Homo sapiens: one gene and its partner. The protein of the gene in region 2 interacts with the protein of the main gene of each other region in a pairwise test. Each region holds a gene or a part of one and is shown on either strand. Other genes may lie near its edges.

Evidence for each region. Proteins that work in one complex are often made in the same cells at the same time.
Region 1: the proteins of RCC1L (region 2) and RBBP6 interact in a two-hybrid assay, tested with the Homo sapiens proteins (one study listed by BioGRID and IntAct).

The regions. Positions count from the first base shown.
Region 1 is NC_000016.10:24,556,539-24,563,565, reverse strand, and holds part of RBBP6 (E3 ubiquitin-protein ligase RBBP6), read right to left. Parts: intron 4,062-7,027; coding exon 3,889-4,061; intron 1,955-3,888; coding exon 1,851-1,954; intron 1,743-1,850; coding exon 1,405-1,742; intron 368-1,404; coding exon 271-367; intron 144-270; coding exon 65-143; intron 1-64. UniProt on the Homo sapiens protein: E3 ubiquitin-protein ligase which promotes ubiquitination of YBX1, leading to its degradation by the proteasome.
Region 2 is NC_000007.14:75,049,794-75,056,820, forward strand, and holds part of RCC1L (RCC1-like G exchanging factor-like protein), read right to left. Parts: intron 6,932-7,027; coding exon of another isoform or gene 6,912-6,931; exon of another isoform or gene 6,720-6,911; intron 6,282-6,719; coding exon 6,108-6,281; intron 3,004-6,107; coding exon 2,918-3,003; intron 1-2,917. UniProt on the Homo sapiens protein: Guanine nucleotide exchange factor (GEF) for mitochondrial dynamin-related GTPase OPA1. Activates OPA1, by exchanging bound GDP for free GTP, and drives OPA1 and MFN1-dependent mitochondrial fusion. Plays an essential role in mitochondrial ribosome biogenesis.

The DNA.
Region 1 (7,027 bases), on a different chromosome or scaffold from region 2:
ATTAAATCAAGCTAAAATTATTTTTTAAAGGGAAAAAGGTCTAAACCAAAGTGATCTTACTCACCAGTTGTGGGGATCAACTGTCCATGCAATAATGACTGTCCAAGCAAAGATGGGGTTCCAAGAACAGGCACCTGGTAACCCTTTAGAAACAACCACAAATAAACAGAAATAGTTAAAAAAAAAAAAAAAAAAGAGGTAAGAACAAAGCCAGAAAAACAAAACCCTGCTGTAAAAAAAATCCCAAATTAAAGCACCAGTAAAATTTACCTTCTCTTCCATAAGAGCGGTAATTGCAATTGAGGAGGTTCCCTTTGAGTGCTCTGATGCAAGAGCTGCAGCTGGCAATATTTTATTATCAGAATCCCTTTAAAAAACATAAATTATAATACATTAAAAATTATCAGAAATGGACAATTAAGAGTAAAAAAGTTTGCTGCTGTTTACCCATCACCTGCAGTTAAGATGAGTTAAGTCAAAGATGATGAATACTTCTGAGGAAAGTGAGAGAAGGCTGAAACTTTGAAGAGTTCTCTATATGTAGTAAGTGGAAAAGTAAAATGAAGGACCTCCTTAAGAAGATACTACAGTTATGACAGAAATCAGTTGCAAGAATAGTAAAACTTAAAATCAAAGTCTGGCCTATGAAGACAAAAATCCCCCTAGGATTAAGAGTTAAGTTTTAGCTCTAGTTCTACCACTAAACTGAAAGGATAATCTTGGGTCAGCCATAGAACTCTCTGGGCCTATTTCCACTATCAACCAAATAAATTCCACCAGATCAGTGGAATTTCTTAAATGTAAATGTAAAGGTCTCATCCTAAAGATTTTGCTTCAGTGTGTCTGAAATGGGCCTCTTACACCTTTTTTTTTTTTTTTTAAAGAATTTATGAGACATTAAACTACATGGACAAAAGTCTCATTTCTGAAGTGGTAGGCTGTGAGTTTTCACTATTCTCCTACATAATAATTATGCTCCAAAACAATCACTATTCCTGACTTCTCTACTTACCTGTGTTTTTACCCCCTCTTCTCTACCTATCTAAACTGTTCTTAGTTCTACTCAAAACTACTCCTATCCAAAACTATCATTATGATCACAAGTGAATTCTCCCACCTCTGTTAAGTTCAGAGCTGTTATGGTATATGGAACATTCAACGTTTAATAGGGGCTGGTTGGCAACCTGTGTAGTATTTGACCTCAGGATGCTTAATCCTCATTTGCCAAATCAATCACGTTTGTTTTCCTCTTCCCCCAATAAGACTAAGTCACTTCTTACAAGTCATCCCACATTACTGAGCACAGTGGTCCACTAAGAAAGCTGTTAAAAGTGATAACCAACAACAAAACACTACATCATTGACCTCATTTGGTTTCTAACAGTGAAAAACACACAGGCTTACCGAAAAGGTCCATCTGATTTTTCTGAATGAACTGATATGGATACTGTTGCAGTTATATCAGGTACAGGAGCTGGAGCAGAAGACGGATTTCCAGACACAGGAGGGGCCAAGGAAGACTGATTAGAAGTTAATGAAGATATAGACGGAGCTGGGTGAGTTGATGAAGATGTCACTGGAATCATAAGAGGATCTTGTTGTCTTGATATCGGAGATCTCATCAGAGGTTGTAGGTTCCTCTGAATCAGTGGTCTCGGAGGTGGTATTGGGGGTGGTGGAGGAGGTAACTGTTTTCGTAGTCTTTTTGTATAGCCAGTTTCATTTTTGAAGTTATTTACAGCCTACAGATACCAAGCATAATAATGCAGAAAAATGTTATGCAGTATTCACTGAAGTACAGTTAAATCAGTTAAAAAGAATTTTTTCATAAAATGGATACAGACAGTTACCTGTCGTAAAAATTTATTGGCAATTAAAGCATCAGGAGAAACATCATTTTGATGACACGTCGGACATGTGTGCTCATCTGATTCCAGGAGTGCTGTTCTTATACCTATGTATAAGATTTCAAATATTAATAAAAGCATAGTAGGAACTCAAAGTGTTTACGAAATGAATTAAAAGGATGGTCCACATTTGTTCAGTTACATTACTGTTTTCCAAGCATGTCGTGCTAATCATTTCTTAGATTAAGAAACTTAAGTAAAATCTCTCATCTTACAGTACTCCTCTGCTCTTTTCTATATGACCTATGCTACGCTAAAAAGAAGTCACAGCTGGGTGTGCTGGCATGTGCCTGTAATCCCCACTCCTGGGGAGGCTGGGACAGGAGAATCACTTGAGCCTAGAAGTTCAAGGCTAGCCTGGGGCAAAATAGCAAGGATCCCCCACCCCATCTTTTTTTTTTTTTAAACAAATGTCTGAATTGAGAGCAAAAGCACTCTTTCTCAAAGACTATTCTTTGTTTAGCTAGTAACTGGAATATTGTAGAAAACAAAAGAGAAATATAAGATAGTCTAGAAAGACAAAAATTTTACATGGCTAACTTGGGGTTTTTATTCAGGCAAGGAAATGAGAGACCTACAGCACAGTACGTGGGAGCAACACTAAATTACAGATACGAAGATTAAGCTTCAATGTAGTAAAACTCCAGTAATACCAAGTGGTATGTTAAATCTAAGATATAATCTGAAACAAGTCTTTAGCAACCTCTTCTTGACCTTGGTCTTCACTGAAGAGGTCAAAAAATAAAGATTTACAGGTATCCAAAGGGGATGGGTTCCAGAACCCTCTGAAGATAACGTCTGTAGATGCTCAAGTCACTCAACTGCCCCAAAGGCATAGTATTTGCATATAATACTATGTACATCCTCCAGTATACTTTAAATAATCTCTAGATTGCTTGTAATACCTGCTGCAATATAAATGCTATGTAAATAGTTGTTATACTCTTATTTTAAAATCTGTATTAGTCTTTACTATTATTTTTTACTGTTTTCTTGCCCCCAAATATTTATGATCTGTGGTTTTGAATCTGCAGATGCAGAACCATGTGTATGAGGACTGTATATTTCAAAACTACCTTTAAAAATGAAAAAGGCCAGAGCAGGCTTGAGCAAATTTTCAGGTAACACTGATTTCTTCTGTGTAAGAAGGCACAAACTTAGGATAAGTGGCAGGAAACAACTAAGTGCTAATATAAGTGATTTAAAAAGTCACAACTGCATGGTAAATGCTGGGTAATAAATATGTCTACAGATGTCGGGCGCGGTGGCTCACGCCTGTAATCCCAGCACTTGGGGAGGCCGAGGTGGGCGGATCACGAGGTCAGGAGATCGAGACCATCCTGGCTAACACAGTGAAACCCCGTCTCTACTAAAAATACAAAACATTAGCCGGGTGTGGTGGCGGGCACCTGCAGTCCCAGCTACTTGGGAGGCTGAGGCAGAATTGTGTGAAGCCAGAAGGCAGAGGATGCAGTGAGCCGAGATTACACCACTGCACTCCAGCCTGGGAGACAGTGAGACTCTGTCTCAAAAAAAAAAAAAAAAAACAAAAACTGTCTACAGGAATCAGGTGTTAATACACTTAGAAATATTAGGATAAGCTATTCACAATCCAGGAAAAAGATTTAGATACCACTTAAAAATATTTCCAGAATTATCTAAGGCCCAAAAAAGTTTTAAAATTCTGGATACCACTTAAAACATACAGGAAACAAAAAGTCTATATTAAGAAAAACACCTCAGTATAGTCACCCTGATGAAGGTACAGAAGTCAATTCTAGAATTTAAAAGGACAAACAGGTTATTGTTTAAAAAAGATACAGCAAGAAAAACAGACTTCTCACTACTTAATGCTCATTGATCAACACTTGTCATCAACATTATTTATTTTATTATTAAAACATATGAGGTTGGGAAGAGCCATTCCAAGTAAATACAAATATTCTAAAATATACATCTTCCAAGATTCAGCACTTCTTACATTCATCACAGTAACTGTTTCCACAGCAGGGAATCACAACAGCATCAGTCATAATATCCTTGCAGATGAGACACAACAATTCATCTGGGATAGGATCATCTTCTTCTGAGGAAGAAGATGGCTCCTCTGGTAAGAAGGGAGGTTTCTCTTTCTTCCCAATTGCATATGCTTCTCTGTAAAAGAAAGTTTTCATGTTTTACCATTGTTAAGAAGGCAGAGTACTCATGCTACATGTTCTACTATAACATAATGGGAACACATAATTCAGCGCAATGCCAAATTAGTTTAGACAAGCACCATATCTTCTAAAATAAGGGAGTAATTATGTACAACCTAACCCTAAACAAAGACACAAAAGTCTAAACAAGCATAACAAAAAGAAGCAAAGAAATGCTACAAAAACAATAAAAGGATCTTAGAACCCGTCACTCTTAAGAACTGAGGGCCAGAAATAAAGCGAAATGTTCTGTGCCATAAAGTTCTATTTAAGTGACAAAGACAAGACTTGAATTTAGACAACACCATAATCACAATTTTTCCTACTCTATCAAGTTTCTTGAAAAAAATAAAAATGAAAATTAAAATTAAAAATCCCAAAAAATCTCCCCTTCTCCATAACCCAAAAGTCTCTCAAACCTGTGAAGGTATTGGAGTAAATGCCACAAGACGGGAAATTAAAATTAGTACTGACATTATACAATTAAGGAAAGATAGTTCAAGGGAAATATTATGTCATTACCACACAAATAATTAATAAAATGAGATACCAAAACCCATGATCTACTTATTAGTATTTTAAGAGAGGTTAATCAATTTATAGTCAATTAAGAAGCATTAGTGACTTAAATGATCAAAATCGGTGTTACAAAAATGTAAAGTAACACCTCATTAGACATTCTAGGTCCAGTTTTTTGTAGAAATGCATTTTGCAGAAATGTTGGGCATTAAATATAGTATTAAAAAATAAAAATAGCTATTCTCAGACTTGTCACCACTGCTTCTACACCCCCATCTTCTCTGTAATCAGGCAAATTTGCAAAACACAGGAATCCCTAGAGAAACCCTTTCTATTTCATTCAGGAACAGAGTGTGTTTATCTCAATGCTGAAAATGAAAGAATCTCGGCTGTACAGAGTAGGGTACCTTAGGTGTGTTATTTGTGTTGCAGTTGCTCCATAGACATCACCACGATTCCAGAAATAAGTATCAATTTGCTTATGCCCCATTGTTCCCAATTTGTGAAAGAGGAGTCTCCCACTGCCCAAAAGAGAGAAAAAAGAAAAAAAAAAAAAAGAAAAAAAGAGGAGAACAGAGGATAGAAAAAGAAACAGAAGAAGAGTCTGAGTTGCTTATCAGTGGTGTTAGTGAAGAGGGTGAAAGTTTCATTTAAAATATTTAGATTCCCATCTTTCCCCAGTATTTGCTGTGTGTCTGGCACAATTGGGCATTTGTATTTCAGCATTCAAAAGCAATGAAGTTAATTATTAGTTAGGGTTTACAGGTGATACTAATTTTTCCAACACAAATTTTTACTTAAAAATTTTACATAATATAGATGAAGCGGTCTGCTCTTAATTGTGTCTGTAAAAATAATCAATTTCAAGCTAAAGTTATTTGGAAACATCTATGAAATGTCTCTGAATTAGAAACAGCATAACAACAGACTGTTCAATGATGAACCACAAAAACACAGGATGGTGACTGATAAAAAATAGATGGGGGTGAAGTTGAGGAAGTGAGCAGGGTTGGGAGTTTAGGAAAACATTCTTATCTGTGAACGAAAACACTATTTGCTGAAGTACATATTCAAAAACACAAGATCTTTTCAATATCATTCTATGGCATAGCTATTTTCATCATCATCCCCACCTGCTCACTACACTACACTTCAACAATATTTATAGCATGAAGCTGAGGAACTGTTCTTATATATGTATGTATTTTTTCACTGAGAACATGAACACCTAATTCTGTAAATTGATGCCCTGAGGATCCCCTAACTTCACAATCTCTTGGACAACCTGTTAAAAATGTAGAATCAGGGTCTTATCACATAACTTCTAAATCAAAATTGGGGGCGGAGCAACCAGGATCTTTTTTTTTTTTGCCCAAGGTCCCTCTACCTGGCCAGCCTTTTAACATACTTTTGTAGGAAATTCTTATGCTCAACAAAGTTAGAGAACAGCAGTCCAAAGAACACTTAATATTATGCTGTATAGTATGTGAGATCACAACTGTTGAAGGTAATCAAAAAAGTAACTGACTACATTAATAAAAGCAGATAAAATGGGAGGTTATCTAGTTGAACCCTGCCACTGAATTTTCATGTCTGTCCATTTCATTAAAAACTGGTTCATAATATAAAATCTGAATACACATTAAAAATGGGCATTAAGGGCCAGACGTGGTGGCTCATGCCTGTAATCCCAGCACTTTGAGAGGCCGAGGCGGGTGGAGCACAAGGTCAGGCTAACACGGTGAAACTCCGTCTCTACTAAAAAAATACAAAAAATTAGCCGGGCGTGGTGGCGGGCGCCTGTAGTCCCAGCTACTCAGGAGGCTGAGGCAGGAAAATGGTGTGAACCTGGGAGGTGGAGCTTGCAGTTAGCCGAGATTGTGCCACTGCACTTCAGCCTAAGGGACAGAGCGAGACTTGGTCTCAAAAAAAAAAAAAAAAAAAAAGGCATTAAGGTGTTTTATAGAGCTATAGTTGATCTGAACTAGTGGTTTATAAAATAAACCTTACTTGAGAATCTTAAGACTCACATGGCATATCCAAACTTATTCAAGCTACTTCAGTATTTCATTTATGCCTGACACTTAAATTTGCCTCAACATCATGCAGAGCTTTTATTCTTAAGCCTCCTGTTTCTCAAAATGATTACAATCTGTTTTGTTCACTTAAAAATGCAAGTAGCATATATAATAAGATTATGTGGGAGTATGTATGTGAATGAGGAAGAAAGCAGGGAATGACAGAAAAAGAAAAAATTAGAAGACTACAAGGGAAGTGGCACTCACTGGTAACAAAAAATCCCCAAATCCATTTTAAATTTGCTTTAAATGGAGCAGACTGCAGCCTCACAGAAATGCAAGATGTAGAGACTAATGGCTTTGGTATACAAAGTTCTCAAGGAAT
Region 2 (7,027 bases):
ACTTGAACCTGGGAGACAGAGGCTGCAGTGAGCCGAGATCCTGTCACCACACTCCAGCTTGGGTGACAGAGCAAGACCCTGTCTAAAAGAACAAACAAACAAAACAAAGAAAAGAAAAATCACTTGTAATTTTTTTTTTAAGTGAGTCATCAGAAGGGACTGGACTCTCCCACCCCAATCCAAAGAGGACAGGGGTCGAGGCCACTCCGTGCACAAACCCTTAGGGGCTCCCTGAATGTGCAAGAGGAAGGACAATGGTTTGGCGCCAAATGCCGCCGTCACGGGGACAGGCTGGGGTGCTCTTTTCCCAAAGGCACAAATGTGTTTAAAAAGCAAATGATAGCCAGGCGTCGTGGCATGCACCTGTAATCCCAGCTACCAGGGAGGCTGAGGAAGGAGAATCACTTGAACCCGGAAGGTGGAGGTTTCAGTGAGCTGAGATCATGCCACTGCACTCAAGCCTGGGCAACAGAGCAAGACTCCATCTCAAAACAATAATAATAAAATAAAAATAAAAATAAAAAGCAAATGACCAGAAGGACACTTGGTGTGTGGCGAGCCAGGGCAAGTGACCCAGATGGAATGTCAACGGGATCGGGCTCCGGCCACTCCCTGCCCGCACAGGGACCAGCGCTTTGCACATGCCCTTATGGCAGGGGCAACGTGACCTGAGTCAAATCTCAGGCTGATCACTCTGATTTGAAGGAAATGAGGGCGGGGGGCAGACCCTCGTCAGCGTTCTTTCACCCAAAACCCGGCTGCTTTAACTGTTTCCCAAGTTCCCCCCTCAGAAGGAAGTCCTTTTCGAAAGAAAGGGCAAAGTGAGAGAAGAGAGGAGTCAGTGAGAAAGCAAGTGGGCATGTAGATGACTGATGCTCACATTATCTGAGCCACACCCACTGCCCGACTCTCTGTTCCTCACACCGGCAGTTTCCAGGCTCAGGAGAAAGCCGGCAAGCCCCACCACCTTGGGAACAACTCTATTATACAAACAGCTTTCCAACAAGGCTAAAGTCGCCCGGGCGTGATGGGTCATGCCTGTAATCCCAGCACTTTGGGAAGCTGAGGGAGGCAGATTGCTTGAAGCCGGAAGTTTGAGACCAGCCTGGGCAACATAGTGAGACTCCCATCTCTACTAAAAATAAAAAAATTTGTCAGGTGTGGTGGTGTACGCCTGTGGTCCCAGCTATTCAGGAGGCTGAGGTGGGAGGATCACCTGAGCCCAGGAAGGTCAAGGCTGCAGTGAGCTGTGATCACATCACTGCAATCCAGCCTGAGTGATAAAAGTGAGACCCTGTCTCATAATAAGCAAAAACAAAAAAACAAAGTTAAAGTCTCCATTTCAACTTGCTTTCTCAGAGCCTCCACCGATAGTCTTGGAAAAAATATATATATATATATATTTAATATATATAAACGTATAATATAAATGTATTATATATGTATATATATTTATATGTGTGTGTGTATATATACACACATATATACACACACATATAAATACATACATATATATATACACACATATATACACACACACACACATATATATACACACACACATATATATACACACATATATATATACACACATATATATATACACATTTCTTTTGCAAGTCCTTTGTTTTTTTTTGAGACACAGTCTCCCTCTGTTGCCCAGGCTGGAGTGCAGCAGCGTCTGATCTTGGCTCACTGCAACCTCTGCCTCCCGGGTTCAAGTGATTTCCTGCCTCAGCCTCCCAAGTAGCTGGGATTACAGGCGTGTGCCACCATGCCTGGCTAATTTTTGTATTTTTAATAGACATGGGGTTTCATCATGTTGGTCAGACTGGTCTCGAACTCCTGACCTTGTGATCCACCCACCTGGGCCTCCCCAAGCGCTGGGATTACAGGTGTGAGACACCACACCTGGTGCAAGTCCTTTTTAAAAACGCTTTTCACAATTTCAAAACAAATTAAAATCCAACCTTCTGATAAAATACACCCATATGCACACTGCACACACATGTATGTACTCACAGGCACACACACACAAAGCACGCATGCACACCAGTCTCTATGCAGAGACTATCTCTGGAAAGGAACATAAAGAAATCAGGACCAGTGGCTGCCTCTGGAACAAAAACTGGGTGGTGGGAGACTCATTTTCCATAGTGCATTTTTTTGTACCATGAACATATGTTTCATGTTCAAAAAACCCCAAAAACCTCCTTTTTTAGAATGCCTTAAAGAACTGACTTAGTAAACAACACTAAGGTAAACTACAATTTTAGAATGAGCGTCTCTTCCCCTGTAATTCTGGAAGGAGCCTTTTTGTCTAATTGCATACTACCGCCCCTAAGGAAGCGACTTTATTTTTTCACTTCATAGCTGCGGTTGGGCCATCTAAATATTAAACATCCTGCTTTCTTTTAAATTCATTGTGAAGCATTCCCCCACATGGGCTTCTGTAAACAGCTTCTAGCGTGCCAACTTCATCCAATATCTCCCCCTCTCCGGAGCCTCATGGCACCCTACCAGAGCCTTTGCACCATCGTGCCTCTGTTTCCCCGATCCACCCCAAGGATGGCCTCCGACAGGGCTTCTTATAGGACTGGATGCTTGAGTGGGCTACTCCCTCCAACCTCCCAGTCAGTGGGCCGGGATGGGTTGACCCAGCTCCTGCACCCCAAGAAGCCTGGTGTCACTCCCCCACGCATCACACCATGCAGATGCACCACGGGTATCTCATGGGTGTCACCACAGAGTGTGCAATGACATAGCATGCCGCGCTGCAGGAGTGCAGCCAGGACCCGGAAGGGGGAGCAGGTCCCATGGCCCTCGTCCTGGCCCATCTGCACGCGAGGTGTCTGCAGTGACGTCAGGTGACTCTACTCTTAGCATCCATTCTCAAGACCTCCCCGGCCAGCCTTACCCTCCATGGGAAATACTGGTCCTCCAGGCGACCGATTCCCAGGCACCCTCGGATGTTCTTGCCCCATACAAACAGCTCTCCTTTGTCTGCAAAGGGAGGAAAACAGGGGTTGGTTGGGACTGTGTGAAGAACAAGTCTCCAAGGAGAGGATGGGTCATGAGAACAGGCTTTCTAGAACCAGATACCTACAGAGCCCACTGTTCAGCTTTTACCAGGCGTTCATGCTTTCTTTGAAGGCAAAAGTAAGGGTCTGAGATGCTGTCCCCATATCGAAAACACATCCACGGCCAGGACTTCTGCTGCATCCACCCACGTGGGAGATGAGCACTCAAATGAAGATGGGGCAGGGGGCAGTGCACGGGGCTGGGGGTGATGCATGGAGCTGGGGTCTGGGGGTGGTGCACGGGGCTGGGGGTGGTGCATGGAGCTGGGGTCTGGGGGTGGTGGACAGGGCTGGGGGTGGTGCATGGAGCTGGGGTCTGGGGGTGGTGGACAGGGCTGGGGGTAGTGCATGGAGTTGGGGTCTGGGGGTGGTGGACAGGTCTGGGGGTGGTGCATGGAGCTGGGGTCTGGGGGTGGTGCACGGGGCTGGAGGTCACTGATGCACACGGCCCACTCTGCTCACCCCTTGTGCCCCGCCCACAATCGTGTGCCACCAAACTCTGCCTTCCACAAATCCTGGCGACACCCTGGGCTTCCTGATTTGACAGTGAAAAGTAAGACAATTTGTCATTCCTGGATTGATTGTCCATATCTTGGGAGCATTCAGCCACAGGGCATCTAATGACCAAGTGCCTGCTTGTGCTGGGTCTAGGTCTGTGTTCCAGGAGCTGGGGACTGGCCAGAGACGGAACAGACAGATGATTTTAATATATGTTTACAAACTGTAAAAACTGTCATGAAGAAAAAGTACAAGATGCTGTTTAAGAGGTCAACCCAGGAGATGGCCTCTCCTAGCCCGGCCTTCAGGTGGGACTCTGTCTGCACCAGCTGGGGCACTCCTGGGCCCATGTCACCATCAGCTGTTGGGCAAAAGGCTTGGGTCATGGGAGGCAGAGGAAGTGACATGGAAAAGCCAGGACTACAAGACCTGGGGCTGATGAAGTACGGAATAATTACAAGCTGTCTTAGGCCCCTGATCTAAGCATGCCCCTTGTTCTCCACACTCAGACCTTAGATAGTTTTTGTGTGTGTGTGTTTGTTTGCTTTTGAGACAGGGTCTCACTCTGCTGCCCAGGCTGCGACGCAGTGGCACAAACATAGCTCACTGCAGCCTTGAACTCTCAAACTCAAGCAGTCCTTCCACCTCAGCCTCCAGAGTAGCTGGGACTACAGGCGCACACCACCACACCCAGCTAATTTCTGTATTTTTTGTAGAAAAGGGATCTCACTATGTTGCCTAGGCTAGTCTCGAACTCCTGGGCTTTGAGGGATCCTCTCATCTTGGCCTCCCAAAGTGCTGGGATTACAAGCATGAGCCACTGCACCCAGCTAGCCCTTAGGTGTTTAATAGAACAATTCGGCCTGGCTCCCCAAAATGCTAGCAGACCACAGGATAAACCAACCAACTCTAATTCCCAGATGGCTATCTGCAAATGCCAGGCACACAGGCAGGAAGACAGCTAGGCTCTGTCTACCAACAGGCAGTAACTCACCCTTAGAAGGAGGCCTGTTAAGTCTCGGGGAGAAATCCAGAAAGGAATTTCATTTCGCTGTGACCTGAAATGGCTACATGGCATGAGGGCAAATAGAAAAGCCTCTGCTCTAGTCAAATGCTTCACACAGATTTCTAAACATGTGTCTCTGCCCATAGTTGAGGCCTTAAGAACTTTCTGGAAAGTAGATATTTGTTTCCCCCAAAATTAGTCCATACGACTCTTATTTATCAAATCAAAATAGCTTTAAGAATTCATGACACTGAATTAGCCGGGCGTGGTGGTGTGTGCCTGTAATCCCAGCTACTTGGGAGGCTGAGGCAGGAGAATCGTTTGAACTCGGGAGGCGGAGGTTGCAGTGAGCCAAGATCGCGCCATTGCACTCCAGCCTGGGCAACAAGAGTGAGACTCCAACTCAAAAAAAAAGAATTCATGAGACCTACACTCAGCTGCAAATGCAAGTGGCCACTCTGGCTGGGCAGTGGCCAGGAATTCTCTGGCTTAGTCATGACCACTGCCACTTCAGTGCTTCAGCCTAGAGCCAGATAAAACTCCAGCTGGCAGCCATAACAACCCAGGCCTGCCTGTTTGACGGCCTCTGGAGCCTGGAATTCAGACAATAAGTGAATAGCAGTTAGGACCCTGGTACAGAGGGTGAGCATCTGGGACAGGCCCCACGTGGGAATGAGGCCAGAGAACTCAACCAAAGATGACACCAACTGACTGTCCCGGCCTGGATGTTTAAAAAGAAAACAATTACTTGCCATGAGATGAAAAGATTCTTTTAATTGCAAGGAAATAACTAATTTACTTGAGAATCACAGAATGAAATTAATTCAGGACAGTTTTACTATTCGAGTCAACTAAAGAGCAGCAAATTGAACCCACGGTAACTGTGGTGGAGTAAGAGATGTAACCAAGAAAAGGACACATTCCTTACCCTTACCCTGCAGGGTAAGCGGATATTCTGTGGCTTTGTAATCTGGCAGGCCTTTGGGAAAAACCTCCATTTTGCTCTCCCCTTTCATCATTCTCTACCCCGGCACTTTGGAGAAATCGGTAGATTTACCTCCGTGAAACCACGGGACAGTCTGACAAATCGGCCTTTTGCCATCCCATATCCTGGGTCAGATCAGGGTCTGGGCTCGGCCAGGGAATGGGATTAAGCCCCACACATTCACTTCCTAATCACCCACCCATGGATCCGCCAAGCCTCTGCTGGTTTCCTCCAGCACCCGACGTACTAGCAATGCCCCTTCCTACCACCGACGGGTGCTCTCTTGAGAAAATGCACGTTCACGTTAGCCTACCCACAAACCAAACGAACCAAAATTAAAACTCCAGGGGGGGAAAACAAGACATTATACAACCTCGAGGCAAACAACTTCTGGCTTAGCCCTTGCTTGAGTTATCAGTACAAAGGCGCCGTTCTGTTGGATGGGTGGAACCTGAGAGCTGCCCGCAGTTTGGGGTTGAACTGGAGACAGAGAACCTCTGCTGGGCTCACACCAGGGCCACCGGGCTTGGTAACTTACTGGTCAGTGCAGCAAAGTGGCTGAGTCCACATCGGATGCGGGAAACCTGGATTTCTGGGTTGAACTCCGTCAAGCCAAAGAGAGTGGGTGGAATCATTTCAGGGACGGCACTTTCCACTAGGTTTGGACCTTTCCCAAGAATTCCATAGCCCCAGACAAAAACATGTCCTTCTCCTACATTACAGTAAAAACAAGGGTCAGTAAGTCCATCCAAGTAAGAACCTCCCTCACCAGAAACTCAAACTACACCACCAAGGTTTATGACATCCACACGGTTTTTTTTTGTTTTTTTTTTGTTTTGTTTTTTTCCTCCTTGCTTGGCAAGAACATGCAGACAGAGATTTAGAATAATAATTCTCTCTCCCCTGCTTAAATTCTTGCTGGGGGAGTCTGTCTCGCCAGCTCTCCTGGCTCAGAACACAAACTTCCCACATCTTGAGGGTTAGTAACCTGGAAGGGACGAGCGTATAAATCATCCAGAAAACCCATACGAATACCAGAGAATTGGAGGATGTTTTCTCCCCCTAATGACAGCTCTGTGTTTCACACTGATCAGAAGGCCAAACACATCAACAATGTCTGGCCAGATTCTTAAAACTCTTAGAAATGATGTTTTGGTTATAGAAAGTTTAATATTCATCAGTGGTGCCAGATATTTCATCGTTATCCAAAGCTGAAGGCTGTTCTCCCATCTGCCTTTGATTTTTTGGCTGGAGAAGGCAGAGCTGGAGTCTCTCTGGCCCAGGCTAAGGGAGGGGAATGAAGTAGTTCGCTCTCCACTCCAGAGGTTTGCTCTAGGATGACTCAGCTCTGTGGCCATGTATCTACAGATAAATCGCAGACTATTCGCTTTTTGTTAAGAACTTCATTCACACCCTGTAATGCCATCTTCTAATCCAATGCCATCTTCCCATGGCCAT